2 linked regions of the Homo sapiens genome follow. The protein of the gene in region 2 interacts with the protein of the main gene of each other region in a biochemical or structural test. Each region holds a gene or a part of one and is shown on either strand. Other genes may lie near its edges.

What was found.
Region 1: the proteins of SLC25A4 (region 2) and PPIF form a complex in vitro, tested with the Homo sapiens proteins (one study listed by BioGRID).

Annotation. Positions count from the first base shown.
Region 1 is NC_000010.11:79,352,922-79,355,934, forward strand, and holds the end of PPIF (peptidyl-prolyl cis-trans isomerase F, mitochondrial precursor), read left to right. Parts: intron 1-723; coding exon of another isoform or gene 724-785; coding exon 786-921; 3' UTR 922-2,413; downstream 2,414-3,013. UniProt on the Homo sapiens protein: PPIase that catalyzes the cis-trans isomerization of proline imidic peptide bonds in oligopeptides and may therefore assist protein folding. Involved in regulation of the mitochondrial permeability transition pore (mPTP).
Region 2 is NC_000004.12:185,148,321-185,150,959, reverse strand, and holds the end of SLC25A4 (ADP/ATP translocase 1), read right to left. Parts: 3' UTR 578-2,639; downstream 1-577. UniProt on the Homo sapiens protein: ADP:ATP antiporter that mediates import of ADP into the mitochondrial matrix for ATP synthesis, and export of ATP out to fuel the cell.

The sequences.
Region 1 (3,013 bases), on a different chromosome or scaffold from region 2:
TAGGGATGTCTCTTTCCTGGTACATTTTCCTCTAAGGGATAAATTTCTCTGGCCAGAGTCCCAAATGTCCTAGCCCTGGGGCACCTGGGGATGAACTGGCTGGGAGCTGACTTGGTAAAGCCCATTTCCGAGGATTTTAGGGAGACCTAGGTGGGGCAGACACTAGAAGTGTCCAGCCTCCAAGCCCAAGAGATGTGGCCGGCAGGGCTGGGCAGGTCCTTGCTGGCTCAGCCTGCTCTTTGCTCCTTCATGGGACCCCAGTGGATCCTGCAGTTCTGCTCTTGGCTGGAACCACGCCAGCTTCGCTGGAGCTGGACTGAGCCGCCTTTTACATTATTGGACTCTCTCGGGTTGAGAGCTGCCCAGGACTCCTGCAGTTTCACCACCCTTGTTCCTTTGACTCTTGACTCATCATTCATGACCGTTAACGTGGTTCCATTTGTATGGACTTCTTCTTTCTTCAGAGCATTTCAGTATCCTGTTACCTCCCCATGCAGAACAAAGAATACTCCACTTTTGATAGATGGGGTTACCAGGATTCAGGCTACATGGCCTGAGGCAAGGTCACAACATGAGTGACAGAATGTGTCCTGGAAGCCAGGCATCCTCTGGGGTGTATTTGGGGCGCTCAACAAGGCTTGATCGAGCTTTGGGGGTAGATCTAGCTATTCCATGGGGATTCTTTTCAGAATTGCTGTTTTCGGTAACTAATTCCATGACCAGGTCCATGGCATTGGATGACATTGCGCTACACTGTTGCTCACCCGGGTCACCCGTCCTCACAGGTTGGATGGCAAGCATGTTGTGTTCGGTCACGTCAAAGAGGGCATGGACGTCGTGAAGAAAATAGAATCTTTCGGCTCTAAGAGTGGGAGGACATCCAAGAAGATTGTCATCACAGACTGTGGCCAGTTGAGCTAATCTGTGGCCAGGGTGCTGGCATGGTGGCAGCTGCAAATGTCCATGCACCCAGGTGGCCGCGTTGGGCTGTCAGCCAAGGTGCCTGAAACGATACGTGTGCCCACTCCACTGTCACAGTGTGCCTGAGGAAGGCTGCTAGGGATGTTAGACCTCGGCCAGGACCCACCACATTGCTTCCTAATACCCACCCTTCCTCACGACCTCATTTCTGGGCATCTTTGTGGACATGATGTCACCCACCCCTTGTCAAGCATTGCCTGTGATTGCCCAGCCCAGATTCATCTGTGCCTTGGACATGGTGATGGTGATGGGTTGCCATCCAAGTGAAAGTCTTTTCCTTGACCAAGGGGGACAGTCAGTTTTGCAAAAGGACTCTAATACCTGTTTAATATTGTCTTCCTAATTGGGATAATTTAATTAACAAGATTGACTAGAAGTGAAACTGCAACACTAACTTCCCCGTGCTGTGGTGTGACCTGAGTTGGTGACACAGGCCACAGACCCCAGAGCTTGGCTTTTGAAACACAACTCAGGGCTTTTGTGAAGGTTCCCCCGCTGAGATCTTTCCTCCTGGTTACTGTGAAGCCTGTTGGTTTGCTGCTGTCGTTTTTGAGGAGGGCCCATGGGGGTAGGAGCAGTTGAACCTGGGAACAAACCTCACTTGAGCTGTGCCTAGACAATGTGAATTCCTGTGTTGCTAACAGAAGTGGCCTGTAAGCTCCTGTGCTCCGGAGGGAAGCATTTCCTGGTAGGCTTTGATTTTTCTGTGTGTTAAAGAAATTCAATCTACTCATGATGTGTTATGCATAAAACATTTCTGGAACATGGATTTGTGTTCACCTTAAATGTGAAAATAAATCCTATTTTCTATGGAAGACTGGTACCTGGTTTCTGGAAGAGGGGTCTGTGACTTGGAGCTGATCTTTACTGAGCTCGCCGTGGCAGATGCCATGCTCAGGACGTTCATGTGGATGGTTTCATGTCATCGTGCTGGCAACTTGTCCTCCCTGCCTTAGAGATGAGGCTCAGACAAACGACCTTAGCACCCATAGCCTATGCCATGAGCACTGGCTCCACCCTGAATCCCAGCTCCTCCCCTTAGTGACCCCAAGTCTGTTTCCCTCAGCTGCATAAGGAGGCGATATAGTTTGAATATTTGTCCCCAGCCAAATCTCATGTTGAACTGTAATCCCCAGTGCTGGAGGTGGGGCCTGCTACGAGGTGTTTGGATCATGGGGACGGGTATTTCATGGCTTGGTGCTGTTTTCTTGATGGTGAATTATTGCAAGATACGGTCATTTAAAATTGTGTGGCACCTCCCCCTGCCCCCTTCTTGCTCCTGCTTTCACCATGTGACATGCCTGATCCCCCTTCACCTTTTGCCATGGTCATAAGCTTCCTGAGGCCTCCCTGGAAGCTGAGCAGATGCCAGCACCATGCTTCCTGTACATCCTGCAGAACCATAAGCCAATTAAACCTTTTTAATAATAAATTACTCAGTCTCAAGTATTTTTTTATAGCAATACAAGAATCCTAACACGGGTTAACAATAAGGCCCACCTCGTAGGGTGGTGATCCACGTGAAGTGCATAACGCAGTGTCTGGCGCACCTTCCTAAGCACTCTGGAGTGACAAGGATGATGACCTTTCCCCTGTCAGGGTCTTAGGAAGGAGGAGGGATGCCAGAGCAAAGGAGCCTCCATCATCTGAGGTTAGGAGTGGACTTCCTAGGATAAGCCAGTTCCATTTGGAATTGACTTCTAGGTGTTTCCAAATTCACAGGGAAGGCAGGATTGGAGGTAAGAGCTTCCCTAGGTAGACAGGGCTGTGGTGTGGCCCGGCAGTTGAGTGGTCAGGCAGGCAGTTCTCAGAGGAAATTTGGGCCCTTTTGAGGGCATCTAACAGAATTATTTCTCACTGGGGTTCCCTGAGTGAGGTTATGTGTAGTCTTAGGTTAATGGAGTCACTCTGAGGTCATGGTGACTGGGGTCGGGTCATTTGGAGTCATGGAGAGTTCCCATGAAGTCAGTTTCAGTAGGACAAGTAGTCTTAAAACAATTATCAAGAGCGTTAAGAGTCCTCAAAGCAGACA
Region 2 (2,639 bases):
AGCTGCTGGTCACAAAAATCATACATAACCTTGTTTTATGTGTTTATACTTAAAGACACCTTATTTAATATATATTGCTGATCATTAACACTGAGCTCATGGCCCAGGCCTGAAGACAGCTGATCTGACACATGTGTTTTCCACAAGGCATGTCTTAGCCCTCCTGTGCTGAGGAACAGCATTCTGCTTGGGGGCCATGTTAATTGGCAATGATTGTGCCTTGGATAAACTGCATTTTGGCCACTGCACAAAGCTTGAGGGCCTTTTTAAACAGCAGAATTTCTGTAGCACGAAGTAAACATGTGAACAGGATGCTTGTTTACAGGATGAGGCTGAAATGAAAAGGCGGGGTAAGTGTCACCTTGTTCCACTGCAGCTAGGGATGTGTGTCAGGCAACTTGAGTTTGTCATCATTCTGTGTGTCCAAGGACCTTAAAGTGGTTACAAATGAAGTTTGGCAGTGAAGCCAGTTTACAGATATGTAATCTGTGAATGAGATCAACTGTACTTTATTGTGGATTGATAAAATCTCTGATATTGAGGAGGAGCAGAAAAGCAAAGAATTTGTGACACGGTAGACTTTGTTAAATTTTATTTAAGGGCTTGACATTTGCATTTAAGGCAGCCGTAAGTTTTTATTCATTGCATTATACGACTCCAACAAGCCTGTCCAGCCACCCCCATGGTGCTTTGCACGTTCAAGATTTCACCCGAACTGATGAAACCCTTTCCCAAATATTTTGTAGGTTCCCTGTGCTTTTTAGATGCACTTTCCCTTCTCGCTCACTCTTCCATTCAGCAGAAACTTGCTAAACACCTTCTCTGTCCTGGGCACTGTACCAGGTGTGGAAGATAAGCTCGCCTTGCGGCGCTCGATTCTCTTGCAGCCTTGCACCTTGGGGGTGTTTAGTAAATGCCGCCTCAACACAAAGGATGCCACATATTTTACAGAATAAAATGGAACGGGAGCAGTCGCCCAGTTAATTGAGATTTCAACACAAATACTTGAGACAAGTTTTCATTGTTTTTAGTGTCCAATTATTACCATTATGGACTCACTCATCTTGCATCATCCTCCATAATTTTTCTCATACATTTAAAATACAAAATAAGGTCTTAAAAAGATGTAAAATGCCAACAGGTGAGGCTTTAGGGGAGAAAATACCTAAAGGTGATTGGGGTGGGGGTGGTGGTGGTGAAGGAGGGCTGCGCCTAGGAGAGAGCTGTGTGGGAAATGGGGCTGATGAGAAATGCCTGGGGCAGGTACCCGAGAGTCGGACGCTCAATTCCAACTTGTCACTTTTACGTAAACCAGACCTTCCAGCATGAGGCAGCTTTGCACAATGATGGTATGGCGTGCGGGTAGGTTAGTGAGGGAAGTACTGCCTGTTCTCCCGCCAGATCCCAGCACTCTCAGAGGCTGAGGGTTCTAGGAATTCATGGTGAGTTAAGTAGCTGCGGTGAGGAACTAGCTCAGCAGGGCCTGGGGCAACGTGCATTAGAGGTAACCTTCGCAGGAAGCGGAAGGGCTGACATCTGGGTCACATGCAGAGAATGTAGATAATGTGCACTATGTAATAAATGTCCATGCCTCTTCCCTCCCCATTCCATGCCAGGGTTAAAGACGGAACACAATTACACTTCTTGGTTGGGTTGGGAGGACGCACTGTTCATTCATTGTATCAGGTCTTCCTCCTCCTAAACTTGGGCCCTGCTTGGAGATACGCTCCATCAAAGCACTTGCCCACTACTAGCCTGCCCTGCTTTTATTCCCTATCAGCAATAGAGTTTGGATCACTTAGAACGAAAAGCAACAGGAGGACAATGGATCCAGGAGGCCTCTTAACTGCACATGTGCTGCCTGGCCTCGAGGAGACAGGATGGAGAGGTACCTTCTTTTTAGCCCTTTAGACTTTATTGGCCTAGATATCTACCAGGTGAGGTCAGATGTGATCCTGGATTTTATAAAACTCAGACCTTGGTAACTGTGGTAAAAGCAACACAGCCAATTTTTAGCTGGGGAGGCAGGAGTGAGTCGGTGGAAGGGCTTGGTAAGCAAGGTAAAGAACAGGAGGTACAGAGACCAACCCCCACCACCCAACCACCTGTCAGAAAACACAGAGAAGACATTTGCCTGCCTTTCAAGCTTTGCCAAGGATACAGGGACTTGCTTCCTCCAGATTAGTCACAATCCAGGAGACTATAGCAACTGCTTGGTCTTTTCCTGGTCCAAGTGTGAACTTTCCAACCTGATAGTCTAAGTATTTTCCTCTGGCTCGCAAATCTCGGAGGAGCAAATCCAAAACTGACTTCCTGTAGGTCTTGATAAATTGTTACAGAAGTACTGGAGGATGCTTTCTATACCCATGTTTCTAAATCTGGTTATTTTCTTTCAAAGCCTCCATCTCCTACCACTCCCTCCCCCCATTTCATTTCCCTTCTATTCCTTCTCAAGCAAGATGTATTGTCTTAAACAAATTGTCTAACAATGGAATTTCACCTTTTCTCCCCAACTGAAGCATCTTTCAGGGCAGGTTCCTATCTATTTTCCCTTCCACGGGGCCTAAGAGGTATTAAATACTAGCTTGATAAGTGATGCTATGGACTGAATGTTTGTGTCCCTTCAAAATTCATCTGTT